Linked DNA regions of Homo sapiens. The protein of the gene in region 4 interacts with the protein of the main gene of each other region in a biochemical or structural test. Each region holds a gene or a part of one and is shown on either strand. Other genes may lie near its edges.

The links.
Region 1: the proteins of HTRA3 (region 4) and PTH1R interact in a test that uses a peptide from one of them, tested with the Homo sapiens proteins (one large-scale study listed by IntAct).
Region 2: the proteins of HTRA3 (region 4) and CTNND2 interact in a test that uses a peptide from one of them, tested with the Homo sapiens proteins (one large-scale study listed by IntAct).
Region 3: the proteins of HTRA3 (region 4) and ABCA7 interact in a test that uses a peptide from one of them, tested with the Homo sapiens proteins (one large-scale study listed by IntAct).
Region 5: the proteins of HTRA3 (region 4) and PLEKHA2 interact in a test that uses a peptide from one of them, tested with the Homo sapiens proteins (one large-scale study listed by IntAct).
Region 6: the proteins of HTRA3 (region 4) and RASSF6 interact in a test that uses a peptide from one of them, tested with the Homo sapiens proteins (one large-scale study listed by IntAct).
Region 7: the proteins of HTRA3 (region 4) and ADGRG1 interact in a test that uses a peptide from one of them, tested with the Homo sapiens proteins (one large-scale study listed by IntAct).

Annotation. Positions count from the first base shown.
Region 1 is NC_000003.12:46,901,621-46,904,876, reverse strand, and holds the end of PTH1R (parathyroid hormone/parathyroid hormone-related peptide receptor precursor), read right to left. Parts: intron 3,112-3,256; coding exon 3,017-3,111; intron 2,352-3,016; coding exon 2,210-2,351; intron 2,129-2,209; coding exon 2,087-2,128; intron 1,608-2,086; coding exon 1,221-1,607; 3' UTR 1,078-1,220; downstream 1-1,077.
Region 2 is NC_000005.10:10,970,858-10,974,590, forward strand, and holds the end of CTNND2 (catenin delta-2), read right to left. Parts: intron 2,857-3,733; coding exon 2,596-2,856; 3' UTR 979-2,595; downstream 1-978. UniProt on the Homo sapiens protein: Has a critical role in neuronal development, particularly in the formation and/or maintenance of dendritic spines and synapses. Involved in the regulation of Wnt signaling.
Region 3 is NC_000019.10:1,046,458-1,050,634, reverse strand, and holds part of ABCA7 (phospholipid-transporting ATPase ABCA7), read right to left. Parts: intron 3,834-4,177; coding exon 3,611-3,833; intron 3,479-3,610; coding exon 3,257-3,478; intron 3,183-3,256; coding exon 2,981-3,182; intron 1,741-2,980; coding exon 1,630-1,740; intron 1,370-1,629; coding exon 1,198-1,369; coding exon of another isoform or gene 1,173-1,197; intron 1-1,172. UniProt on the Homo sapiens protein: Catalyzes the translocation of specific phospholipids from the cytoplasmic to the extracellular/lumenal leaflet of membrane coupled to the hydrolysis of ATP. Transports preferentially phosphatidylserine over phosphatidylcholine.
Region 4 is NC_000004.12:8,290,250-8,294,426, reverse strand, and holds part of HTRA3 (serine protease HTRA3 isoform 1 precursor), read right to left. Parts: intron 3,058-4,177; coding exon 2,863-3,057; intron 2,107-2,862; coding exon 2,074-2,106; intron 341-2,073; coding exon 226-340; intron 1-225. UniProt on the Homo sapiens protein: Serine protease that cleaves beta-casein/CSN2 as well as several extracellular matrix (ECM) proteoglycans such as decorin/DCN, biglycan/BGN and fibronectin/FN1.
Region 5 is NC_000008.11:38,946,190-38,950,366, reverse strand, and holds part of PLEKHA2 (pleckstrin homology domain-containing family A member 2), read right to left. Parts: coding exon 4,146-4,177; intron 1-4,145. UniProt on the Homo sapiens protein: Binds specifically to phosphatidylinositol 3,4-diphosphate (PtdIns3,4P2), but not to other phosphoinositides. May recruit other proteins to the plasma membrane.
Region 6 is NC_000004.12:73,582,051-73,586,227, forward strand, and holds part of RASSF6 (ras association domain-containing protein 6), read right to left. Parts: intron 3,315-4,177; coding exon 3,130-3,314; intron 2,784-3,129; coding exon of another isoform or gene 2,769-2,783; exon of another isoform or gene 556-2,768; intron 241-555; coding exon 139-240; intron 1-138.
Region 7 is NC_000016.10:57,659,612-57,663,507, reverse strand, and holds part of ADGRG1 (adhesion G-protein coupled receptor G1 isoform b precursor), read right to left. Parts: coding exon 3,827-3,896; intron 2,741-3,826; coding exon 2,632-2,740; intron 1,812-2,631; coding exon 1,543-1,811; intron 57-1,542; coding exon 1-56. UniProt on the Homo sapiens protein: Adhesion G-protein coupled receptor (aGPCR) for steroid hormone 17alpha-hydroxypregnenolone (17-OH), which is involved in cell adhesion and cell-cell interactions.

The DNA.
Region 1 (3,256 bases), on a different chromosome or scaffold from region 4:
AGGGCAGGCAGGGCTGGGTGTGGGGCTGCTCAGCAGGCACCCACACCTCCTAACGCCCACCTGAGTTTTTTGTCTTGGGCCTCCTGACCCCTCCCCTATGCCCTATGGGGTGTGTGTGGGCTGCTGGAGATGAGGTGCACTCCTGGATGCCGAGTCCGTGGAGAAGAGTAAGACGGGCTGAGCGGGAGATGGGAAGGCAGGGCAGGGCTCGTGCGGGGCTGTCTTTAGGCTGGAGCAAGAGCAAGAAGCTCGTTCAGGCCAGAGCCCGGGGTGGGCATGCTGTAGGGTCAGTCCTCAGGGTGTCGGGCTGAGGGGCTCTGTGCCACTCTGGGGCCCACGAATGGCCCAAGGTGGGAGAGGGCACGGTCCGGGGGGGTGAGTAAGGTGGTAGGTGGGTGTCAGGTGAGGACACTTAGTGACTGTCCCAGATGCATAGTGAATGGATGTGTCCCACCTTGCAGGCCCCTGCCCAGCCAGCCCTCTGGGCTCAGACTCCTGGCTCCCCACAAGTCCTGAGCCAGAGCAGGGACCCAGCCCACCCTTCACCTGCTGGCCTGGTGCTCCTACTGCAACCTCAGTCACAGAGGCATGTCAGGTCACGGGTGGATGCTAAGGCTCCTGCGTGGAGGGCTCCCTGAGTGGCCACTGGACAGCCAGGAAAGGTCCATTCTGTGGCAGGGCCGTAGGCTTGGGGGTGTGGCCAGGGACCCGAGGGATCTGCCAGCAGCCCTGGGTGGCAGTGATGGGGGCAGCAGTCAGAAGAGTTGGCCCAGAGGAGCCTGGGTCCCCCATGGGGTCTAGGTACAAGTGTGGAGAGCAGCTCCACAGCTGGCAGCAACGGAGGCTGAGGCTGGATTTCCACATGGGTCCACTTGGCTGCTGTGTGACCCCTGCAGACTTGAGCCACTCTGGGCCCTTTCTGCTGGATACCACAGGCCCCAGATCCCTCCCCATTCTGAAGTGAGACCTGAGGATTCCTCCATGACTCATGGCCCTCCCGCCACAGCTTTCCCTGGCTCCCAGCCCCACCCTCTCGGAGTGAGTCCCCAGTTTGGGCCACAGGAAGCCACACACCGCTTCCTTTTCCTTTTTCTTTTTTTTTTCTTTTTTTCCCTGTTTTTCCTCTTGGCCCCAGCCCTGAGTGGGAAATCATTCAACCACCCATCTTTTGGTCCATCTGTCCATCCACTATGTCAGCAGGTCCAGCCCCCAGCGCCTGGTCACATGACTGTCTCCCACTCTTCCTGTAGCAGGGCAGGTGGCCGCTCAGGCCCAGAGGCCTCCTCGTCCAGGCCTGAGCAGGAGCCGTTGAGGAACCCATCGTCCTTGGGAGCAGCCATGGCAGGTGGTGTGGTCTCGAGGGTCTCCAGGGCTGGGGTCCCTGGCTTGGCATGGCCAGGCAGCTGAGGGTGGCCGTTGGTGGTGGCAGTGGGCAGTAGGCGGGGGCTGAGGGGCAGGCCGAGTCCCACACGGGGGCCGACATTGGTCACACTTGTGTGGGACACCATGGGGCCGTAGCTATAGCTGCTGCTCCCGCTGCGTGCCTTTCGCTTGAAGTCCAGTGCCAGTGTCCAGCGGCTCCAAGATTTCTTGATCTCAGCTTGTACCTTGGGGCAGTAAGGGTGCGGCAGTCAGGTGTGTCTCCCAACCCCAGCGATGCCCCATCCCGGCCCCTGGACACCCAGCACGGAATGAAAATGGGAATAGGGGACTCCTGGGAAACTCCAAGGCCAAGTGAAATCCCATCCTCACAACAGGGTGTTTGGCTACAGGCAGCCGACACACCCAGAATCTACAAGGCTCAAATTGCCCCAAAGGTGGCTGAGTCCTCCAATCTGGGTCACAGATAATTGAACCATGGGGCTGGGAAGACACTTGGCTATGCCAGTGACTGAAGAGTCCCCACATCCTAGCACATCCTGAACCTGCATCATCTGGAAAGACTTCTCTGCTTTCAGAATGTCCTCAGGGGTGTTCTTGGAGGAACAAAGAAATAACAGGGTGGAAGAATGGAGAAATGAGCCTTGAGGAAGCCTCTGGGGTATCTGCCCCACCCTGCCCTATGCCAACACTGTCTCCTGCTTACCTCGCCATTGCAGAAACAGTATATGATTGCGACAAAAAATCCCTGTGAAGAGGGGTGTCTCGAATCAGGCCTGCCCCCGGAACCCCTCCCACCCTCAGCCAGGCCCGGGCCAGCACTGCGCACCTGGAAGGAGTTGAAGAGCATCTCATAGTGCATCTGGACTTGCCAGAGCGTCCCTGAGACCTCGGTGTATGGTGTGGCCATGAAGACAATGTAGTGGACGCCAAAGAGGGGCATGAGCACCAGCGTGGATTTGAGCAGCTTCCTGGGCCAGCGGGGCAGGTAGGTCAGGGCCAAGCCACTTCCCCTTCAACAAGCATTGTGCCACCCCCCACCCTGCGAGCCCCAGGCTCCGGAAGCTCAAAGGGGCCCAGGGCTCCAGTCACCATGGGAGGACAACCCAGTTCACCTGCATGGCTGCTGTCCTGGCTAAGTGCTAATAGGGCCCGTTGGTTCTCAGCGGTGTCCCGGAGCGGACTTCAAATGACAGTCCCCCTGTCCCTGGGCCCTTCGCACCTGTGGAGCCCTCAGCTGGCAAGCACTCCCCTCCACGGTCGAACCTCACTATCCCACAGTCCGCTCCTCAGGTTTCAGCTGAGCTGCAGCCTTCCCGGGGCCACTCACCGCCTACCTGTTCCTCAGACCCCCTGCAACCAACTCTTTGAGGAGAGGTTCAAGTTCGTTGCACACTCACAGACTCCAGCTCTAGTGCAGGGCCTGGTACAAGTGGGCAGGCTGGCTTTGGGGTGCCCTAGGGCCTCCCATCACTGCTGGGCAGGCCAGGTGGGTGAGGACAGCCAGGGAGTCAGACGCTGGGTCCTTTCCCTTGCCCCAGGATCATTCATGGGGCCACTGTCTTTCCTGGGGTACATGGTACCAGGACTCAGGGACCCCTGAGGAGCCAGGGCATGGCAGGCATGGTGGGCTCACCGGTACTGCTGCCGTGTGTCACACCGGCCGGCGTTGGTCTCCCGCAGCTTGGTGGCGAGCACCCGGACGATATTGATGAAGAGGATGAAGTTGAGCTGTGGGAGTGAGGGGGCTGCGTCTGGAGGCTGCACCCTAGTGGGGCGGGGCAAGGCCTGGCAGCCACGGCCATAGGCTCTGCTCTGTCACTGCATCTCTGGGTGGCTCCTTGAGCCCTTGGTTTTCCTTTCTGGGCTGGAGTGT
Region 2 (3,733 bases), on a different chromosome or scaffold from region 4:
TTCAGGACAATCAAAGCCAAAACAAAGGTTTCTTGTCACTTGGGGCTTTTATCCAATACATCCCATGTTACAAACAATAAATCACTGGCTGACCAACCTTCTTTGCCAAGGGAACCTGTGGGGGCTTTAGGCTATTTCATAGTTCAAGTAAGACCCCATCTATTGACTTACCTACCTCCATCTACCTATCCATCCACCATCTATCATCTATCTATAGCTATGTATTATCTGTCATCTCTCTCTCTCTCTCTCTGTCTATATCTATCCTCAATCTATTTGTATATGTGCCTAAAAAGGAAAAATGGATTGGCTTGAATAATTACAAACACTTTTAAATTTTTCCCACTATCTCTCCTTCTGATGCTGGAGGCTCCTAGCTGAGTCAGCTAATCACAGCCTGGCACAATGTGCTCTCAAAGAATTATGGGATGCAAAGACATCCTTGGTCTTCATGAGTCGCAAATGTAGGGCATGCATTAAGACTCAAAAATCATAAAGAAAATATACGGTTTCTACTAGGAGGAGGAATTCCATAGCACATTAATTCTGTGGCACAACTCCAACCAGAGAATGAGTCCTATTGCTTTCTTCTGGAAAGGTTAAGCCAGCCCTTATGTTATAGGGAAGTCATGTCCATATCACATTCTCTTTACTGTTGCATTGTATGATACAGATGAAGTGGAAACCCTGTCTTCAATGTGCCATGTTTCTCTCTCTCTAGAGGGTCTGAAGCATTCCTGTGAGGGAATCCAGAAATGTGGAGTCCTGTATGTCCAACTAGTACATAATTCACACATACATTTCTGTCTACTGCTCTATTCTGAAAGTTAACTTTTCATTTCCAAAACTATGCGTGAATTGACTATCATCATTTGATTGTTGTTAAATTTGGAGAAAGAACCATTTACTTGAGACTTGGAGCTGAATTAAACTATGTAGCGTGAAGGGAAGCCAGTTTTAAAGGACGATGGCAGCCAATTTCTTTTGTTACTGATGTTTTTATTTTTTCCAAGAACAGTTAACATTTACTAGGCACCTATTGGCCTCAGCCACTTGCATCTAAAGAGCAAAGCTAGTTTACCCGCGGCCCATGTTCTTTTCGATGGTTAGCCTTATTTCTTAGCTCTGTTAACCACTATTCTAACGTTAGCTTCAAGTTCAGTTTTAATAATCTATTCCATAGTTGTGTACTGCTCCCTGCCACATGAACAAAAAGTTTGGGGGAATAAGGCGAGCAGTTTACATTTTCTGTGGATACTTCAAGTAATTGGCCCCAAAGTGAAACTGAATTGGCCATGGTTTATCGTGTTCTGAGGGGATAAAATGTGTAAGGAAACGGACCTGTAGAGAGGGTTGATATCCAAGTATGCGTGAATGTGTGAAAATCCTATAACTCCACTTCAACTGGCCTAATATCCTGAGTCACTAGATGGTCAGAAGAATAGATACAGTACAAAAGGAACAAACTGATGTACATTTATACTAAAAAACCAAAAACAAAGTTTGTACAAGATGAACAGCAAATGAAATAGCTTCTGTCAAAATAAAATCTCACACAGGTAATTTTTCTAGTACGTGGACATACATACACCCACACACACAGACACACAAGCAAGAATGTGTATTTTGTAAGATATAGGTTCTTGGAAATAGACATTCTTAGCAAATATGGATGACAGATCAATTGTAATTTATTTTCTTTTAACACTGTATCATCATAAAGAAAACTGGTATAAATGAAAAAATCTATTTCAAATATCTACATCTAAAATTTTAGGCAGTGAAAAAGCACTTTGTTGACAAGGAGTGTGGAATGATGTATGTTAATTGTCAGAAACTGCTGAATGCCTTGTTTAGTTGTCACAAACAAATTCACATATCAGAACGAACAATACTGCTAAATATTCCTTTTTTCCTGCTTTTTTTTTTTTTTGTTAAAACATACTGGGAGAAAGTAAAGAAAAACTGGAAATCCATACATCTTTCAAAAGTTTGAAATTGAAGCAATATTTAGAACCATAGATGAGGAAACACGGCGGCATTGGTGTAATATACACAACGCGCTTTTCTTCTTTAATCTGTAATGTACATCAAATACTTTACAACAATGCATTAACAAAAGGCAAGAAACATCTTGCTGTACAGAGGAACCCCAATGCAACCTGAAGCCTAGAGTCACAACGGATGAAGAGAGTAAACAAAGCGTGAGAAGCCGTCCCCCACACAGTGTGTAAACTATTCTGTGTCTTGTGCTTAACGATAACCCTTACGCCCCACCGGCCCGAATGCCTCGTCTCTCCTCCCATCAACCACGTTCAGTATAAAGCACTTCTCGTTACTCTACAGCTCACGCTAGAAAGGTGCTGCCCACTGTCATATTTAGGATCACTTTAGCTTTCTACTGATTTCCAAGTTAACTTGCGATTCATTTAGCTTTCTAAAATAGCTCTTAATATTTCCTTACTGGTTATCACAGCCTTCCTATGGAACAGGCTTTAACAAACTAAATTTGCAGGAGAAAAAAACAAAACAGAAAGAAATGTCTTGTGGTATGCATGCACATGCACTGTTCCCGGAGCGCCTGTGCCCTGCTCCTCACACCCAGGAGTCGGGGGAGGCCGGGTAGTGGCTCGTTTCATAGTTCAGTTCACTGTAGGGACGGGCAGCTGAGTAGAAGTCAACGTAGTTGCCGGTGGACTTGAGACCCAGGTGCATGGTGTACTCGCTGGCGGGAGGGCGATGGTGGACCTGGTCCTCGAAGAAGGACTCATCGTAATTTCTTGTGGAATTCTGAAATGGCTGGTAGGTCTCGTAATCTTTTCTGCTGGGCTCCTGTGGGACTGGCTGTGCTGAAACCTAAACGGGAAAGAAGAGCCACACTGGGTTACTTGGTTTCCCTTGACTCAGCCTGCCTCTTGCCCCGGCACCCAACTCTCCTTCAAAGAATAGGCTGTGTATATCCAGGCATTCACCACTGTGGCCCTGCTTCTCCAAAACTGCCAACTGTCATTGGCTTTCCTTTTGAAAATTGGATCCTAGGTCCACGTGCTATCATTCTACATAATCTTTATCATGGCAAAATATACATAACATAAAACAGCTTGCTTTAAGAAATGTTGAAGTGTAAGATTAATTAGGTGGCATTAAGAACATTCACAGTGTTGTGCAACCATCACCACCATCCGTTTCCACCACTTTTTAAATCATCCCAAACAGAAACTCTGTGCCCATTAAATGTAATTCCTCATCCCCTCTCTCTCAGCCCATGGCAAGCACCATTCTACTTTCTGTCTCTAGAAATCTGCCTAATATAGGCACTGCAGAGAGTGTTTGTCCTTGTGTGACTGGCTTCTTTCACTTAGCATAAAGTTTGCATGGTCCATCCATGGTGTTGCACATGGCAGACCTTGATCCGTTTTTGTGGCTGAATAATATTCCACTGTATGATGTGCATTGCTCCACTGATGAATGCACTGAAGGCCATGACTTTACCTCAATGTAGCAAAACTGCACTTGCACCCCCATGATTGTATATATATAAGAATAAAATAGTCCATGGTATGCATAGACCACATTTTATTTATCCATTCATCCATTGATGGACGCTTGGGTTATTTTTACCTTTTAGCTGCTGTAAATAATGTTGCAATAAACATTGGTGCATTTGTATCTGTTCTAGTCCCTGGGGTCCCTTTTCAAGCACCTGCCCCTGAAATGAGCAGAACCTCCCAAG
Region 3 (4,177 bases), on a different chromosome or scaffold from region 4:
CTAATTTTTTTGCATTTTTAGTAGAGACGGGGTTTCACTGTTTCACCATGTTAGCCAGGATGATCTCAATCTCCTGACCTCGTGATCCACCCGCCTCGGCCCCCCAAAGTGCTGGGATTGCAGGCCTGAGCCACCACGCCTGGCCACAGAGCACCTATTAAATGCTACATCCAAAACCCTGTGATAGCCTTATTTTTATTTATTTGTTTATTTTTATTTTTTTGTGACAGAGTCTCACTCTGTTGCCCAGGCTGGAGTGCAACGGCACAGTCTCGGCTCACTGCAACCTCCGCCTCCAGGGTTCAAGCAGTTCTCCTGCCTCAGCCTCCTGAGTAGCTGGGATTACAGGTGCACGCCACCATCACACCCGGCTAATTTTTGTATTTTTAGTAGAGATGGTTTTGCCATATTGGCCAGGCTGTGTCTCAAACTCTGACCTCAGGCAATCCTCCCACCTCGGCTTGCCCAAGTGCTGGGATTACAGGCGTGAGCCACCACTCCCGCCCTATTTATTTTGAGACAGGGTCTTACTCCGTTGCCCAAGCTGGAGTGCAGTGGCGCCATTACTGCTCACAGGGAGGGACTGGTCGGGGGCCTCACAGGGAGCTCACAGGGAGGAAGTGGTGGGGGGCTCACAGGGAGGGAGTGGTTTGGGCGGCTCACAGGGAGGGAGTGGTGGGGGACTCACAGGGAGGGAGTGGTGGGGGAACTCACAGGGAGGGAGTGGTGGGGGGGCTCACAGGGAGGGAGTGGTGGGGGGGCTCACGGGGAGGGAGCGGTCGGGGGGCTCACAGGGAGGGAGTGGTGGGGGGGCTCACGGGGAGGGAGTGGTGGGGGGTTCACGGGGAGGGAGTGGTGGGGGGGCTCACGGGGAGGGAGTGGTGGGGGGTTCACGGGGAGGGAGTGGTGGGGGGCCTCACGGGGAGGGAGTGGTGGGGGGGCTCACGGGGAGGGAGTGGTGGGGGGTTCACGGGGAGGGAGTGGTGGGGGGGCTCACGGGGAGGGAGTGGTGGGGGGTTCACGGGGAGGGAGTGGTGGGGGGCTCACGGGGAGGGAGTGGTGGGGGGGCTCACGGGGAGGGAGTGGTGGGGGGTTCACGGGGAGGGAGTGGTGGGGGGCTCACGGGGAGGGAGTGGTGGGGGGGCTCACGGGGTGGGAGTGGGGGGGCTCACGGGGAGGGAGTGGTTGGGGGCTCACAGGGTGGTGGTCTTGCCGGCCCCGTTGTGGCCCAGGAAGGCGGTGATGTGGCCCTGGTAGAAGTCCAGGCTGAGCCCCCGCAGGGCTGGCTGCGGGCTTCCAGGAAAGCGCTTCTCCAGGCTGCGAACGGAGACGCCAGGACTCAGGCCGGGCGGTGCCTCTTCTACCAGCACTGCAGAGATGGGGTGGACTCAGCCATGGAGGTCATGGGGGTCCTGGGGCCTGCAAGTCCCTCAGAGCTGGGCTGTGGAATCCGGGACCTGCTGGGCCGGGGCCTATAAAAGCTGCGGGAGCTTGGGGACCGCAGTGTCTTCAGGGCAGGTGTGAGGGTTGGGGTGTCCAGGTCATTGTCATTGGCATCTGTGGAATCTCGTTTTGGGGGGGAACTGGGCATATGTGGACAACCAGCTATTAAGCCTCGTAGTGCCTCACCCTTTGGGTCCAGCGGGGTGGGGCAAGGGGCTGGACTCTTGGGGGGCCGAGGTCCGCACCAGTAGCTCCTCCGAAAAGGAAAATTCCATGGTTCAGGGATCCCGTACTGGCCTGCGGGGAGGGGCGCGGGTTATTGCTTAGCCCACCCCCCAGGAGTGTACCAGGCTTTTTTTGGGGTTTTGTTTTTTTTTTTTTTTGAGACGGAGTCTTGCTCTGTTGCCCAGGCTGGAGTGCAGTGGCACGATTTTGACTCGCTGCAAGCTCCGCCTCCCCAGTTCACGTCATTCTCCTGCCTCAGCCTCCTGAGTAGCTGGGACTACAGGCGCCCGCCACCATGCCTGGATAATTTTTTGTATTTTTGGGAGAGACGGGGTTTCACCGTGTTAGCCAGGATGGTCTCCATCTCCTGACCTCGTGATCTGCCCACCTCGGCCTCCCAAAGTGCTGGGAAAGCAGGCGTGAGCCACCGTGCCCGGCCTTGTTTTTTTTTTTTTTGTTTTTTTTTTTTTGAGACTGAGTTTCACTCTTGTTGCCCAGGCTGGAGTGCAGTGGCGCGATCTCGACTCACCGCAACCTCCGCCTCCGGGATTCAAGCATTTCTCCTGCCTCTGCCTTCCAAGTAGCTAGGAAACAGGCACCCGCCACCACACCCAGCTAATTTTGTATTTTTAGTAGAGACGGGGTTTCTCCATGTTGGTCAGGCTGGTCTCGAAATCCCGACCTCAGATGACCCGCCCGCCTCGGCCTCCCAAAGTGCTGGGATTACAGGCGTGAGCCACCGCACCCAGCCAGCTTTTTTTTTTTTTTTTTTTTTAAAGAGATGGAGGTCTCACTCTGTTGCCCAGGCTGGTGGGATCACGGCTCACAGCAGCCTCAACCTCCTGGGCTCGAGTGATCCTCCCACCCCATCCTCCCGAGTAGCTGGGACTACAGGAGCGTGCCACCACGCCCAGCGTGCCACCACGCCCAGCTAACTTTTTGTATTGATGAGGTCTCACTATATTGCCCAGCCTGGTCTCAAACTCCTGGGCTCAAGCGATTCTCCTGCCTTGGCCTCCCAAAGTGCTGGGATTACAAGCGTGAGCCACAGCGCCCGGCGACTGTGCCAGCTTCTGGCCATACACCTGGAATCAGGGCGTCCAGGTATGAGGCGGCCCAGAAACCCCGCCCACCTGCCTCAGGCCCCGCCCCTCCAATGCAGCCACCTGCATGCGTGTGCCAAGAAGCCCCGCCTTCTCTCCAAGGGAATAAGCCACCCCCCACCCCCAAACGGCCTGGAGGCCACACCCCTAGCTCAGCCTCCCGCAAAGCAGGTGCGACCCGGCCCGGAGCCCCGCCCCCTACGGCCCACCTGGGCACACAGCTTCCAGGTACCAGGTGGCGAGGCCGTAGAGCGCCGCGTCCAGCAGCAGAAGGCCAGAGACCTGGGCCAGGCTGAAGACGTCTGCCGTAGGCCGGGTGCCCACGTTGTGCCACTGCGCGCCCTCGCCCTGCTCCTCCAGCAGAGCCAGGCTCTCGCAGCCGAAGCCGAAGGCCACGGGCGACAGCAGGCTCTGCGGAAAAGCGGGCGGTCAGTGAGCGGCCGAAGCGGGGGGCGTCCCCCATCCACGCCCGACCCGGCTCTCACCGCGGCCACGCGGCCACCCGCGGGCAGCCGGTCCCGCCAAGCCACACACAGCACGTAGGGCAGGTAGAGGGAGAAGTAGGCCAGGCCGCCGCAGGCCGCAGCCAGGTTGGCGCGGGAGAAGAAGGCGCTGAGCAGGAAGCTCTGGGTCACCGTGGCCACCGCGAAGGCTGCCAAGAACAGGAAGACCACGCCCGGGTGGCTGTAGGGGAGGATGTCTCCCAGCTGTGAGAGGCAACGGGAGCTTAGGGTGCAGCTCCTGGATTGGCCTGGGGGCGCGCACCCACGTGGGGCCGCCCCTGTCTGTCACCCTCCAGCGCACCCATTCTGCAGCCGGGCAGGCCGAGGCGCGCCCACCTTGAGCACCAGAACCAGCAGTGCGGCGCTGAGCAGGAAGGGCCCGAGGCAGCTGAGGAACCAGCCTAGCCAGAGCACCGCGCGGCTGAGCCCCATGGCGCGCATGGTGTCCCGCAGCCGCGTCTCCTTCTCCCGCACCACGGCCTTCACTGTCAGTGTCACGGAGTAGATCCAGGCCAGCGTCAGGAAGAGCGGCAGCGACCGGCTCAGCACACGCAGGAACCTGGGGTGGGGACGGCTGGGGTGGAGGCTGGAGACCCTCCGCAGACCCCCCCTCCGCCCACCATCTGGCACGACTGGTTCGTGTCCCGGGATCTCAAGGCGGGAAGATTTGCCTCCCTGTTCCTTGGAACCTGATCCAGCCAGCCTTTGGCTCTCAGGCATCAGTGCAGCCCAGGCTGTCCCTGCGCCGGGGGCCCCCAGACCCTCAGAGTCCCCCCCCCCACCAGACCCTCAGAGTCCCCTGCTCCTCCCGCTGCAGCAGGTCACGTGGAGTGGTGTAAAGGTGCAAAGTTCGCAGCCTGGACCGCAGGAAGGTTCCCAACAGAGCCTGGGCCCACCCCCACA
Region 4 (4,177 bases):
CGATCACGAATCGATGATAGGCAGGGGGAAGATCCTGAAAGAGGCTGAGGATAAGCTGTCCTGGGGGTCTCACAGCTTTGGGGTGGGCAGACAGGACCTGTCCAGTAGTGAGCAAAGTTCACCCAGCACCTCCGGTGGGCCTTGGTCCCAGGGCTGGGGTGTTAAGGGGCTGTAGCCCTGGGAGAGTGCCCCCTGCCTCTGGCCCCCTCCAGGTGAGCTCTTTACCTTTGATCTGCTTGTCTTGGAACTCTGTGAGGAACCGTGTGATGCGGTCTGAGGGGATGGCAAAGGAGATGCCAGCCGTGACCTTGAGCGTGTTGATGCCAATGACCTCGCCATCCTGGGCAGGGAGGTAAGAGCAGGCATCAGTTGGGGGAACCCAGGCAAACCCCTGCCCACAAAGCACTGTGTCCACAGCTCTGTTTCTAGAGGCTGACCCCAGCTGTCAATCCCCCTACAGCCCCCAACTCCCCTGAAAAGCTCACTCTCAGGATCACACCTGTGTCAGTGACCCTACCTCTCCAAATCCTGGAGATCCCCCTTCCCCATCCCTGGAGAGTATTTCCAGGGAAGCTTGCAGCTCGGGCCTGCCCCCAGGCTCTGGCCACTCTGCCTCTAAGAAGCACGGCCACTGGGCCAAGGACACCGCCAAGCCATGTTTGGAGGGACCGAGAGAGGGAGGAACATGGTAAGGCCTGTCGGGGACAGAGACCCTGTCTATCCCTACCTTCCAGAAGTGGGGGGCTGGCAGGTGGGACCAGGGGAGCTCCTTGACCCCCCCATCCCTCTCTTTGGAGACCCTCCAAACCTGCCCTGCCCCCCATGAGGCTGGTACCACTTGGGCAGGATCTGACCTGGCCCCTGGGGACCTCACACTCAGGCACACTCCTGGAAAGGAGCCCCACCCCACAGCCTGGCTTATACCCCTAGCCCTGCCCTCCCTGTCAGGGCCTGGCCAGCTCACCAGGGATCCCTCTGGGGCCTGGGGCAGAGCTTTGGGTCAAGGCACCCTTTGTCCTCCTGGTCCCTGGAAGCTCAGGAGGCAGGAAGAGCATCCGAGTGTGAGATCCAGTAGATTGAGTTCTGTGTCCACCCTCGGCCCTCTGTGCCCATCTCTACTGCCTGGACCATGCGGAGCAGCCTCCTGGGCCTGGCTTTCTGGCCTCCAGCCTAAACCACACACACGAGCTTCCTTGAAACCAGGGCACGGCCTCAGCCCTGCCAAAAGCCTGGGAGACATCTTGGGCACATAGGGTGAAGCCCCATCTGCACACGAGGCCTGAGGCAGCAGGACATGGGCCACCAGCCCCTTTCATTGTCCCCTTGTCTGACCTCCCCCTCCCTAAGCCTCTGAGAGCCTCCTGCAATGCTCATGTTGTGCCTTCTCCCTGGGATTTCTTCTTCCTGTACCCAGTCCTCCTCAATCTCGATGGCTGTTGTATAATGCTCTCACCTCCAGGAAGCCCTCCCTGATCTCACATCAGCTGCCAGGTCTTCCTGCCCAGCGTCCCTCCAGAGCTATCTCATGTGGCTCACATGGTGCTTGGGCTTGTTCACATCTGGACACCTCCCCAGCCATGGATAGGAGCTTCAGGGGTGGGACCGTCCGATCCTTCAGGGCCTAGGAGCTCTGAACTGAGCTTCCTGGTTTATTCTGGAAAAATCTCACCTGGGATGAGGCTGAGCTTGACTTTGAGGCTCAAGACACAACTGGGAAGGGGAGAATGAGGGTGCCCCTGTCATCCTGTGTGTACATCCAGGGCAGGGAGGGCTGAGGTGAGCAGCCCCACACCTGCGTCTCCCTTGCCCCAGCTCCCCTGACAGGCACATGGCCCTGGACTGAGCTGCTGCTCATGGGTGAGTCCTCATTCCTGGTGGCCACTAGCATCCCCGAGGCGCTTGGGGCAGCCTTGGTCTTTCCTCCTTCCAGGCCTCCGGCCCAGCTGCACTCCCGACTGTTGGTGTAAATGTTCTAGGACCATATTGTGGGCCCTGTCCCACCTCAAGGCTGAGCACCCCCATGTGAGAAGAACCCCAGAAACCTGAGAGATTTTGGCTCTAGGGGACACTTACCAGGTTCACCAGTGGTCCCCCGGAGTTCCCGTACTGCAAGGGGAGGAAACAGCATTAGCTGTGCCTGACCCCGCCTGAGGCTTCCTGGAGCCCCTTCTCCAGATCTGCCTCTAACCAGTGCAGAGACACATAAGCAGGTCTCATCCTCAGCAGCATCGAAAGGCCTCAGTGCTGCCCCCATTTCACAGATAAGAAGGCCATGTGGATGGCTGCCTGATGACCGAGGTCTGACTGTCACTGTTCTCTGCACAAACCATACGCTTCGGCATCTACACCCCGGAGGCCAGGCAGCACCGCCTGGTGCATGGAGAATGGGGGTATTACTTCCCATCCTGCTGGCCTGGGGGGGCCCTCTACAAAGACTCGGATTCCAGCCAAGTGCCTGAGCTGCGGCAAAGCTGGATGGACGTGATCTGGGGCATCTGGGTGAAGTGCTTTGTGAATGCTAAACGTGCCACCAACATAATCACAATAATAATGAAAAGCAATGTTGGCCAGGGTGTGTAAGCTGGGCAAAGGTGTTTGCGGGCTGTGGCCATGCCTCTGTTTCTCTGAAAGGCTGCCCGAGCGAGGACAGCAGCCTCTGACTCCCAGCGTGCCTGGCACCCTGGGGTGGAAGTCACAGGGTTAGAGCTCCACCGAATGTAAAGAGAGAACTTTCTAGCAAGTGGATGTGTCGAGTGCCAGAATGGCTCTGGGGAGGGGGGCAAGCCGAGTCAGAGACCACCTCGAGGTTGAGGTCTTGGGCACAGATGGCAGGTGCCCCGGCCTCCTGTCCCTGGGACTCACGTTGATGATGGCATCCGTCTGGATGTAGTCCATGTCGGAGTCCCGGAGGCCCAGCTCCCTGCCCTCCCGCTGGGCAGTGCTGACGATGCCCGTTGTCACTGTGTTCTGTAGGGCGAAGGGACTGCCGATGGCCACCACAAACTCCCCAGGCCGCAGGTCGGCCGAGTGACCCAGCAACAACACAGGGAGCTTTTTCTAGGAGAGAGAAGGAGAAGACACAGAGAGGGAGGCTTAGCCGTCTACCTTCAGCGGGGACCGGAGTCAGATCCTGGCAGGGGGGTCCCAGGGAAGGCATGCACATCTGTGCAAAGCCACCAGGACTGTGAAGGCTCAGGCAGGTCACCAGTGCAGACCAAGACCAGGGCAGTCCTGTGCTGAGACCCAGGGCTGGAGTACACGGAACAGAGGCTCAGCTGTGCCAGGGACCAGAGGTTCCCCCAGGGCAGGCATGGGTGCTCATCATGTGCAGCTGAGCACAGCCTCCAAGGTCGTTGAGCCCAATGATCTGATGGTCACATGGCCTCTAAAAATCTGGTAAAAGCTGCAGACACCTGGTAAAAACTACTACACCATATGCACCACACACAAACTGATGCATTTGATGGAGAGAGATCTGCAGACAACTGGAGCCCAGCTAAGGACTCTGACATCCTTGATCCAGTTCCATCTCATCTCCCAGTAGAGACACACGGGGGAACTCAGGCCTGGAGAAGTGAAGCCACTAGCCGAGCTCCACCCCACGCCGCGCACACTGAGACACCTGCACACCCCTCTTCTGCTTTTGCGCGGGCCCAGCGGAGCCTGTCTGTCTGATTATCTGACTCTGCAACTAGCCTGGCAGCAAGGAGAACAGCCAAGCTCTGTGTTCCAGAAGCTGCGTGGTGCACACTCTGAGAAGGTAATCCCGGGTGCTTGTTAGAAGGTGCCGAAGCGCACACACACACACGATAAATTGGGGAAGGCGGTTCTGTGCTCGTACCCACATCAACTTCCTGGTTCTGGTTTTGCACCCATTACCTAAGATGTCACCGTTGAGGGAAGCTGGCGGAAAGTCTCCTGGGACCTTGTGGCACTACCCTGTAGCTTCCCGTGGATCTGCGATCGGCCAGGTCTCAAGAGCATTGCCCCAACTTAGGAGATCAGTGGGGCAGGACCCCATGCCTCTGACCCTCTGGATGGCTCCCCTCCACCAGGCCACTGGTCCTTCTCATCGTTTCAGTCCTCTTCCCTTTTATTATACACCATCATGTCAAATAAGAAAGTTTCTCTTTGCAGCTTTCAATACGAGGAGAAAGCTGTCAATAATGGGGACGAC
Region 5 (4,177 bases), on a different chromosome or scaffold from region 4:
AAACGGCAACCTGGAGGGTAAGCAGGAGATGGGGGCCAGGTCCGGGGCCTCACACCTGTAACCCCAGCACTTTGGGAGGCCAAGGCAGGAGGGTCACTTGAGCCCAGGAGTTCAAGACCAGCCTGGGGAACATAGTGAGATCCCATCTCTACTAAAAATGAAAAAAAAAATTAGCCAGGTGTGGTAGCACACAGCTGCTCAACAGGCCAAGGTAGGAGAATCTCTTGAGCCCAGGAATTGGAGGCTGAAGTGAGCTATAATCACACCACTGTACTCCAGGCTAGGTGACAGAGACCCTGTCTCGAAAAAAATACAAAATAAAAAACTAAATAAAAGGAACCAGGAACATGAAGCTGGGAGAAGGCATTCTGGGCAGATTGAACAGGTAAAAATGCATGCATGCCTTTGTAGAGACAGAACAAGGGGTCCATGAAGTCTGGAGCCAGAAGATGTGTGGTATAACCCTTCACCTCTCACGAACCACCTGAGAGACCTTTGGCAACCATCAAACCTTTCTAGGCCTAAACCGTCTCATGCATAAAATGAAAAGTGGAATAATATTTATCATAACCATCGTTGTGGTTATCAAATGATAGAGTATATTAAATGCTTTAGAAACACAACTAAAAAGAAAAACATATTACAAAATATTATAATTAAGGCTTCCCACGTTGTTACTAATAATTATACACAGAGCCCTTTTGGAAGAATGAGCTATCTTTGCTCTTCCTTGACAGAGATATGGTACCACAGCTGATCAAATCATCATAAAATTTTTATTGTTAGTTGGAAATCACAGGCCAGAGGTTGCAAATTGGTGGCCCACCCACTGACTTTGCCCAAACAATGTTTTGTTAGTCACATGCAGTATTTTTTAAAATCTGCATCTAAGTTTTGGGATATTTCACAGAAAAATCCAGATTTTCAGCTATGCAGCAGTTCCCTTTTAGATAGAAAATACATTGTGTTTGCACAGTCCCTACCATTCTCCCCAGCAGAACGGGAGAGGCCAGGGGTCAAATGTCACTTATCCTCATTCCTGTTGCCCTGTTTCCTCCTCCTTGCCCACTTCACTCATTTATACTAGAGTCTGCAAATGCTGAGGAAATCTTTCATTTTGTTAGAAAGAAAAAAAAAAAAAGAGGTCCAGAACAGTTGAGTCATTTACCCAAAGCCAGGATTAACAGCTGAATGTCGGCCAGGCACAGTGGCTCATGCCTATAATCCCAGCACTTTGGGAGGCCGAGGCGGGCGGATCACCTGAGGTCGGGAGTTCGAGACTAGCCTGACCAATATAGTGAAATTCCGTCTCTACTAAAAATACAAAAATTAGCTGGGCGTAGTGGCGGGCACCTGTAACCCCAGCTACTCAGGAGGCTGAGGCAGGAGAATCGCTTGAACCCAGAAGGCAGAGGTTGCAGTGAGCCGAGATCACGCCATTGCACTCCAGCCTGGGCTATAGAGCGAGACTCCGTTTCAAAACAAAAACAAAACAAAAAAACAGCTGAATGTCTACTAAACTCTGACTTCCCACCAGTGCCCCAGCATCACAATGCCCCACCTTCAGGAGAACGCAACACCCTACATCTATCTGCCGGGACGTCACCGGGACTTCGAGAGAAAAGCTAAGGTCCTCTCCCACTTCTACAGCTTTCAGAGTAAGAAAGACCTAAGGATCCGAGCTCAGAGCTATATGACAGCCCTGTCATTTGGTGTCTGTTCAAAACAATAAGAGCACCCTGATTATGCTGGGCCCCCACAAAGACAACGAGACCTTCTCTTCCTGGACTGCACACTCAGTTTACATAGACAAGGACGTCCTCTGCCCCCTCCCTACCCCTCCAAATCAGGCCAGAAATTCCGCCTTCTATTTTCTTTCTGGCTGAGAGATACCAGCAGTTACAGTTTCTCTGGGCCACCATTCAGTGCCAGGCAATGCACTGATAAGCTCTTTGCTGCATTATCACTAATCTTATCAACCAGGCATGATTTTCTCCACTTTATAGATGAGGTCAACTCAAGCTCATTAAAATTAAGTGATTTGGCTCTAGGACTGCCTGACTCCTTGTTGCTGCATGTCACGACCTACCTAAGCTACTCTTTCTCACTTTCTGTGAGTTCTGTTATTATGTAACCACATTTTTAGGGATGTTGATTTTTAGTTGATATTTAGTGATTAAAATCACCATGGAACTGCAGAAATTTCCCCTAAATGACCCAGATGAATTCCTGAAACCCAGCAAAGAAGGAGGGAAATAACAATTTTTTTTTTTTTTTTTTTGAGATGGAGTCTTGCTCTGTCGCCCAGGCTGGAGTGCAGTGGCGCGATCTCGGCTCACTGCAATCTCCAGCTCCTGGGTTCAAGTGATTCTCCTGCCTCAGCCTCCCAAGTAGCTGGGATTACGGTGCATGCCAACATGCCCAGCTAGTTTTTATATTTTTAGTAGAGACGGGGTTTCACCATGTTAGCCAGGCTGGTCTCGAACTCCTGACCTTGTGATCCACCCGCCTCAGCCTCCCAAAGTGCTGGGATTACAGGCGTGAGCCACCGCGCCTGGCCAGAAAGTAACTTTTTAGAGTTCCCAGTGGCCAGAAAAGGAGGCACAGAAGCTTGGCTGCTGTGTTTCCTCTCAAAATCCCGAAGAACACTGTTTGTCAGTGCTTATGCTCCGGTGTCATGCAGTGCTTCAGATCAACATGCAGAGCCTTTCCAAAGCTGTTTACACTACCTGAGACTTCTTTAAGAGATGGGCTTTCACTCTGTTGCCTAGGCTGAAGTACAGTGGTGCGATCATAACTCCCTGCAGCCTCAAACTTCTGGGCTCAAGTGATCCTCCTGCCTCAGCCTCCTAAGTAGCTGGGAATACAGGTGTAAGCCACCAGGCCTGGCTAATTTTTTTATTTTTTATTTTTTTTGAGGTGGAGTTTCACTCTTGTCGCCCAGGCTGGAATGCAATGGCACGATCTCGGCTCACTGCAACCTCTGCCTCCCAGGTTCAAGTGATTCTCCTGCCTCAGCCTCCTGAGTAGCTGGGACTACAGGCGTGTGCCACCACGCCCAGCTAATTTTGTATTTTTAGTAGAGACGGGGTTTCACTATGTTGGCCACAGGTGATCCACCCACCTCGGCCTCCCAAAGTGCTGGAATTACAAGCGTGAGCCACTGCACCCAGCCATCCATCCTCTCTCTTTTCATCACTCTCTCTTTTCACGGGTTTACCAAGGTTTATCAGAATAAGAAGCTAATCAGCAAAAGTGCTTATAGGAGACTCAATTACACTCAGGTTGGGTCTAGCAATATGAATACTATATACGTGTACAAATTTCTTCTATACAGTTGTTCACAGGAACCCTGAGAAATCTGGGAGGATAATTTGCTGCAGCATGTAATAGTCACTACTGGAAGCCCCTCAAACATAAGCATTTCTGACTGTATGATACAGAAACAAACTTTTCAGCAAAGAAGCCATGATCTATATAAGCCAGGAGTCTGCCTGTCTTATTGATTAAAAGTCTAGTTTTTTCCAAAACATAGTTTCCCCTCTCCATCCTTCCTACCCTTCTTCCTTTCTTTTTCTATATCTCTAAGGAAAAAGAAAGGAATTCTTCATTAGCCAACTCAAGGAAAAAGAGCACACTCGTAGGACAGTCCATGAACGAGCTCTGTGATGCTTTTAAACAGAAGGCTTTTCTAGGACAGGGAGGCGGATGGCTTGGACTGACCCTGCAGGCAGCCTCTGAAAGTAAGAAGAGTATCCCCCAAGCTGGGAAAAAGTTCTGACTTCCCTCCCCATATGCTTTTCCCCTTACTTGACTTTTCACAGTCACCAATCCATTTTCCAATCCTACCACATTCTGAATCAGCATCCCAGAATCACCCGAAACATGACTGATCGGGAGCCCTCCCAGGAAGCACAAAGGGGACGCTCCATGAACTTCCCCTTGAACTTGATTCAAACTCAGACTCTCAGTTCAACTTGTGTTTGGTCAGCCAAGGAAAAAGACGAGGTGGGAGAGAACTGGGTACAGACCAGGCTCCTGGGAAAGTCCCCGCTGCCATCTCAGTTTTCCCCAACCCCAACAAGGCCATAGCCTGGGAAGAGGCACTTTTACTACCACCAGAAAACAGAAGAAACCAAACTTACGGTGATCTTGCTGGCTTGGTTCAGGGCTTCAA
Region 6 (4,177 bases), about 65 Mb from region 4:
AAAGGAAAGAATCTTTCAGTGCTCAACATCCAATTTAGATTTACACCTTTATAGATCTGTTTCAGAAGAGTGGATTTGTGTGTTTATAGTTGAATTATATATAATATATTTATAGCTCAGTTAAGTGATAAAGGTTACCTTAAATTTTTGGAGAAGTTGCTTTATTACTTCTTCAGTTCTCATGTTACTGTTTACTCTGACCTTAGTTTCTGATTCAAAGGCTGGAATGAAAATTGATGTCTAGAAAAAGAATTGTCACATAAGTCTTTAAAATTATATTATATTAAGGGTATTCAATATCTTGAACATAATCTTCTTATAGGGCAAAAAAAATCCAAGGTCATTAATTTAAAAAATTTGTTTTGTTTTTGTTTGTTTTTCTTTGTTGTTTTTGAATATTATGTGTTCTTTTAAGCAGCTTTATATTGTTTCTAGAGTAAATTAGGTAAAACACCATTTGAGGATGCTTATAACATTTTCACTGGACAATTACACCCCTCTTTAGTGCAGTTTAAGATTTCAAAATAAGTAAGAAAGAATGTCACCAGATGCATATTTAAAAACGGATAGAGATATTAAGTAAGGATTTATTTCCACATATTTTATTTATATGCACAATCTCCAAGTATTCCAAGGCTCTGTAGAAATGGGGTGGGTTCAGCAGATGTAGAGATGGGTGGGTTTTGGGGTGGCTCATTGGACTGTTAAAAAGATAAGTCCTATATTGAGAGATCAGTAAATTAACATCAAAGTATACAGACACAAACATTTATAACACCCACACATGTAACACGCACACACACACACACGGCATTTGTGTGAGTAAAAATGTGGATATGTAAATAAGTTTTCTGAGAAGATGTGTGGAGAGTGTCTAGGATAAACTTTTATAAGTATGAGAAAATTCAATATTTGTAGACATTTTAGAGCATTGATAAGTTATTCTGTGACATTTACGATTTCTATGGAGCCCTGAAAAACCACATGTTCATCCTGCGCTAAGGTGAATATGATATGTTGTACACGTGGTTTGATGTTGTTTATGTGAAGAAGCTTCATGCACTATGACAATAACATGGATTACCATTCAGGAGACCTAGATTTTAGTGCCCACTAAATGCCCACGAACTCCAACTTTGTCAACTCATTTAACATCTTTATTGACTCACTTAACATATATTTGATAAATGACTTCATTTATAAAATAAGATAGTAAGACTAATCTCTAAGAGCTCTTCTAAAATGTCAACATATAGTGAATTTGTTTTTCAGAGCAGTATTTAAATCTATAGTCTTTATATCAGTTGTGTTGGCCAAAACATATAATGAAACCTGCTATCATTTACTATCACATTGATAGAAATATACTACTGGTCAAGTTATATTCACCATAACTAATCTCCAGATATGACAATCTAAGCCTTTAATATGTGTGTTATTCATAGCCTAACAATATTGGCATTAACAAGGGGCTTCATAGTATAAAAACATATCTTACGACACACAGCAACTTAAGAAACATATCCACTAAAATTCCTAGATGTCCGTCATTGTATAATTGTTGATAGAATGCTTTGTTTTTTCTTTTTTGTTTGTATTGTTTTCTGCTAGTTATTAAATTGCAGTGAATGACATTTGTGTAAAATATCTATAGTCCCAGCTTGAGCTCATTCAATCAACAGCAACAACATAAGCTAATGTAGACCGAGTTCTTTTGTGCCAGGTACTATTCTTATGCTGAACTTACCTCATTTCATTCCATCCCATCAACAGCCTTGTAAAGTAAGAAGAATGAAACTTGCTCAGCAAGAATGTAAAACCAGGCTGTCAAGCTCCAGGGCCCAAGCATTTAACCACCATTCCGTGCTGCCAACCTAGTGTCAATTTCATTTCCAGCACAAGTGATCCAATCTGAAAGCCACTTGCTTGGAGCAATGTGGCTTTCCTTCTTCAACACAAATTACCCCACAAGATAATGACATACAACACAATTTCTGTGAAGAGGGAAACAGGACAATTGGTAGGTACCTCTCTGTGGGGGACTATCAATGCTACTTTATAGCTATGAGAATGATTCTGGAACCCTAAAATTCTGATATGAATAAATAATTGAGAAGAGAGATTTCTCCCCACCAGGCTCCAAAGACACACTATCGTTACCCCCCAAGGGTAGAAGAAGAAGAAATAAAGTAGAAATCCTTACAGGAAAAAGCCTACAAAGCAATGAGTTCCTATTTCTTATTAAAGGCCTCAGAAGATACCTGGCACAGTGTAAGTGCTAAGTATTTATGAGATGGAGCGATGAATGATTGCTAAAGTACATCACATGAAAAATATTTGAGTTCTGGAAAAAAATGATGATATATTTCCTACCTTCAGCAAAATGTAATGTCTTACAAGCACTATGGAAAGGCACATATAAATTTAACACATATTCAGTGAAAAAGCAGAATGTGAATTGTATCTAAACTACAACTACACTTATATAAAAACGGTATGTGTATAGGTAAAAGACCTGGAACATGGCAACATGAGAAGTTTGATTTATTGGAATAAATTGGCCTGTGGCTTTTTCCTTTTATTTAAATGTTCACGTTCAAATGTCCTTTGATCCAACCACTTTGTAGCACTTACATTATTCCAGTATTATTGTTGGTATGTTGGTTTCCCTGCTCAATCCCTGAGCTCCGTGCTGGCTGAGACATCGGCTGCCTCATCTGCATGTTTTTAATACTTGGCACAGTGATAGAGTTCACCCATCATGGTGGTTAAAAACTTGTGTTCTGGAGTCAGACAAAGCTGGGTTCAGGTTGAGAGTTACTACTTAAGAGTAGCATAATCTAAGACAAATTGCTTAATCTCCATAAGCCTCAATTAGCTTATATGTCAAGTAAAGAAAATAATGGTACCTATTTCATAGGATTGTTTTAGTGATTAATAAGATAATTCAGTAAAAATCTATTTAAAACACATTTACTTTAATATCTAGCACATAGAGAGTGCCCCCAAGATGTTAGACATGCTACTGTTATTATTATGACTTTAAATTGTGAATTGAATTGGGTGGTATTGTTAGTGAAACAGGGAACCTTATTTTATATTACATTAATGGAATTGTAACTCACTTACTTCATGGTTATAGAAGTGTCCATTAATAGAGGCTCTATTTTTCTGTCTTTCTTTTCTGTCCATCATCAGAGGCTTCATCCTTTTTCTCACCAGAGCTGCTTCACTCATGGTTCTATAGAGCACTGGGGAGTCTGGTTCATCCTTTGCATGTGGCTTCAGGGTGTTGCTGTGATAAGATAAATAGTCTGGGAAGAATAGATTATAAGCTCATATCATTCAGCTGCCTGTGTCCTAGCATCCTGAGTGGATTTGTGTATGCTTTCATTAATTTTAGGAATATTGCTATTTTCTGGCTGTGTAAAAGCATTATAGTCCACTGCTTAGCTGCATATTTACTTATTAAATGTTGCCTGAGACTGACTCAGCAAATTCTGCCAGTATCTCATATAAAATTCTTATGTCTCATTCTTATGTTTCATAAGAAATGATCACAATGATCATGTTTGGGGTTTGGGCATTCCTTTAATCTTAATTTATTGGGGAGTGCATTTTGTGGCATTTCAGAGTGTTAGAGCTGGAATAAACCTGATACTTTATCAGGTTTGATCTCTTACAGGTAAGAAAAAGTACAGTGAGTTGAAGTGGCTTTCCTATGGACATAGTACTCATAAATGATAGAATCAGGTCTGGATCCTTATTTTTTTATTTTTATTTTTATTTTATTATTATTATACTTTAAGTTTTAGGGTAATGTGCACAATGTGCAGGTTAGTTACATATGTATACATGTGCCATGCTGGTGTGCTGCACCCATTAACTCGTCATTTAGCATTAGGTATATCTCCTAATGCTATCCCTCCCCCCTCCCCCCACCCCATTATATGTTGGCCCAAGTTCTTTGGAGCTTTTCCTAAAAAATAAACACTGGGCCTTAGTTTTCCTATAAAACTACAGAAAGCTCTTTGAGAAGCTATTTATATGGTATGTGGAGCATTGAAAGATTTTGTTCCCATCTTTTATAAAAGCAAAAGGAATAGTATGCTTTGGACTAGTCCTACTATTTGTAATATATCACATTATGTTCTTTTTAGAACATTCCAGATGTATG
Region 7 (3,896 bases), on a different chromosome or scaffold from region 4:
GGGGCCACCCCGGGCCTGCAGCCGCATGGACCAGTACCAGATGAAGATGAGGAAGCCTGCGGGCAGTGAGGGCACGGGGTCAGCAGGTGGGGGAGCCCCACCCCATCCCTCCTCCTCCCTCCCCAGCCATTGTGACTCGGGTCTGCCCCACCTCTCCATAGTGTTTGCCAAGCACGTGCTGTCGGGCACCCATGAGACCCAGCGAGCACCTCCTATGAGCCGGGCACTGTGCTGCGTCCCCGTGTGGCCTCTCACTGTCACAAACTTCCTAGGCCCATCCTATTCATTACTATTCTCTTTTGTAAACAAGGAAACTGAGGCCCAGGAGGCTCAGGTAAAGGGACGTGGCTGAGCCAGGGCTCAAACTGTGGTGAACAGGCTCTGAAGTCCACCCACTTAAGCACTGTGAGATTTTGCACCCCTCAAATTAATAGCACTATGATGTATCCACAGCTTAGTAAATGTCTGTGTGAATGTATGGGCCTCACTTACAATCCTGAGTCCCCTCATCTCACAGGCAGGAATGAAGGCTTGAATGTTAAATAACCGAAATGTGGTAACATCTCCCCACCACCAACTCCCAGCTCCCATTCTAGGGTGACCCTGTATGGGAGGCTGGCCTTGAACCCCATGAGAGCCCCTGGGCCTGGCCATACAACCCCCTTCCATTCTGCACGGCCAGGAACAGAGGGGTGTGCATGCCTGTGTGTGCACCTCAATGTACACACACAGGTACATGCACAGAAAGGGACCCTGTTGGCATCAAGCCAGAGCCATCATGACCCTGCCCTGGGATCCCACCTCTCCGCCCCGACCCGCCGCCATCTGGCCACGCTCTCCCTCACTGTCCTTCCTACACACAACCGGTTCCAACCTCAGGATCTTTGTTCTTGCCTCTCCCTCTGCCTGGAGCTTCCTTCCCCTAGACCAGGGCTCCTGATCCTATCATGTGCACGTGACCCCTTGGGCATTTGTGAAAATGCAGATTCTGATGTGGCAGGGCCCGGGTGGCCCAGAGGCTGCGTTTCCAAAAAGCTCCTAACAACGCTGCTGCTGCTGGTCTGTGGACCGCGCCTGGAGTAGGGAGGCCCCCCCATCTCTCCATGGGGGGATCCTTCTCTTGTCTTCACACGTCTCATATCCAGAGAGGCCTCCCTGGCCACCCTTCTTAGGGTGTCCCCCACCCCAGCCGAGGCCCTGTGCAGCACGTGCTCACGACGATGTCCCTACTATCTGGGACCACCTTTGATGGCTATATGCTTGCCTGCTCATGCGCAGTCTTCCCCAGTAGAGCTGAGTTCCAAAAGAACAAGGCCCACACCCAACCAGCTCAGCCATAAGCCCTGTGGCTTAACACAGGGCCTGCACATAGTAGGTGCTCAATCAAGACTTGTTGACTGTGGCCTGGATGTCCCCATTTTATGAATGGGATGACTGAGGCCCAGAGAAGGGAAGTCTTCAGGTTCCCTGGGTGATCTCTTCCCTGCCCTTGCTCCATGTGTAGACACCCTGCCTGGGCCAAGGGACGGGTCTTCTCCTTACCTTGGAAGGAGGTGATGATGCTGAAAAGGTAGAGGACGACAAGCTGGAAGGTGCCAGAAGCAAAGGAGAAGAAGATCAAGGCCCAGGGCAGGCCAAGGACCAGGCTGAGGCCCAGCAGTGTCAGCACATGTGACCACTTTTGGGTGTGGGGGCGCAGCCGCAGGATCTGCACCACCATGGTGGCTAGCATGGCCATGTTGAACAGAAACACCAGGCTGAAGAGGCCCAGGTTGGTGATGTAGCTGACCAGGGAGTCCCGGATCCAGCACCTGCGGGCAAAGGCAGGAGGGCTCAGCGTGTGGCCAGCACGGGCAGCATTTCCTGGGCTGTGGTTGTCATGTTTGTTTTCAGGATTATCCACTGTTTACAGCAAGTGCGCTTGTTTTCTATTTACAGTGTTGATGTAATTTTAAAAATACATTTGAGTTAACAAGTCAGATTGTTTAAAGGAAAATGTTAAGTAAGTAATAATATAGATAGTACAAAAGTGAGGCAGAAATCACTGGGTCACAACATAAAGAGCTGAAAATTTCAAAACCACTGAGCCAATGGGAAGGATTCCTTCCCAGGCTGGAGCTCAGGAACCCTGGCTTCCGGTTTGGGTTCAGGGGATCCACAGGCAGGGCCGCTGCCAGCCTGGGTGAATCAGGTGAGTGGAGAAGGACTGGACTTCAACCCCACTCATCCTCTGCCTCCGAACAGCACACCAGCCCTCAGTGTGGCCAAGAGCGGATCTCTTCCCTCCCTGAGCCTCTGTCTTCCCATCTGCATGGGGAGACAGAGAGGTGCTGCTGAGGAATGTGGTGAGGCTCATCTGCTCCAACCCATACCCCCATTCATGCATGAGGAAACCGAGGCTCAGAGAAGGGCCGGGGCCTGTGCAAGGTCACCTGGTGAGTGAGTGGTAGATCCAGGCCTTTTCTCACCCTCCATGACTCTTAGACCAGTGCTTCAGCCACTGCCAGGCCAATTCCTCGAGGAGACTGGAACCCAGGTGTCCCCTGGCCAGCATGACCTGGGCCCGGGCTGCACTCTGGCCTCTGTGCCCAGAGACCCACCTTCTTGCCCCCATTGCACACAGCCACTCACATGGAAGGGTAGATGACGCCCTCTGGAGTCCTATGCACAGCCAAGATGATGGGGCCATAGTTGTCCACATCCACCAGGGCCACCAGCGTCACCAGAAAGATGGGGAAGCCTGAGGGTGGCAATGCATGTTGCTCTACTTCCCGCTCTCTGAGGCCTGCCCATTCCCTGCTGGCCTCAGGGAGTCTGGAGGGCAAGGGCCCCTCTGAAGTTTGGGCTCCTGAAGCCCACCCAGCCCCATCTGGTGGGGAAGTTCCCCCAAGTTTGGACCCTCCCCCTCCCCATTCCAGTATGGGTTTCCTATAAGGGGATGCCATCTCCTCCAACCTTAGCCCTGCCCTTCGTCACCCTGGGGGCCCCTGGGAGAAAGGCCTGTGGGTCTCTGCTGCAGGGCTGGATGTCACAGGGGAGATGGGAGGGGCAGACAGTTTAGGAGGGACGGCAAGAGTTCTGCCATCAGGGGACGTCTGCACTGGGCCTTGACCTCGCCCGTTCGGTGGAGATTAGAAGCTCCCTAGAGGGGGCTGCCCACCTCCAAACACAAAGTCCTGACACAGAGACACCTCCAAAGGAATTTCATGCAAATGGGGGAATGGACAAAGAAGGGGCCCAATGACAAACCCGCGAAGAGCAGCAAGCTGGAGTCAGGGGCATGCGGAGGTTGAGGGGTCTGTGCAATGTCCAAACAGACTTGTGGCATCATGAGCCCCTGGGCTGTAGGTCTGACATAAGAGGGCTGGCCACAGGTGAATTGAACAGTCATTGGCCAAGAACAAAATGCCAAGCCACAGGGAATCTGTTACCCAAGGTCCAGGGGGATCCTGAGGCAGGGCCACTGCCAGCCCGAGTGAATTAAATGACTGGAGCGGGACTGGATTTCAGCCCCTCTGATCTCTGAACTGGGTGCCTTTGAGCAGTGCACAACCTGCACATTCACACACGGTGGCCCTGCTCGTAAATCCCCTTTGCAATGGAGTGAGTGATGTGGAGAATTTGGAAGTGTTTCTTGGGGACAGGGCTCACTGCTTCTTCCTAAAGGGGACCTTGATTCAGCCAAGGTGAAGGACACCTGAGGATGAGTGAAGGAGGCCAGGAGGGAAGTCAGAGAGATAGGTGGAGAGGCAGAACCAGGTGCCTGGGTTTTGCCAGAGCCAAGTGGGAGAGGCAGGTCTGAGGCACCCCCCGCCCAACCACTTACCCCAGCCCATGGCGCTCAGCTTGAGTAGGTAGCCAGGGACATAGGTGCCAAAGACCTCCACCACGAGTCG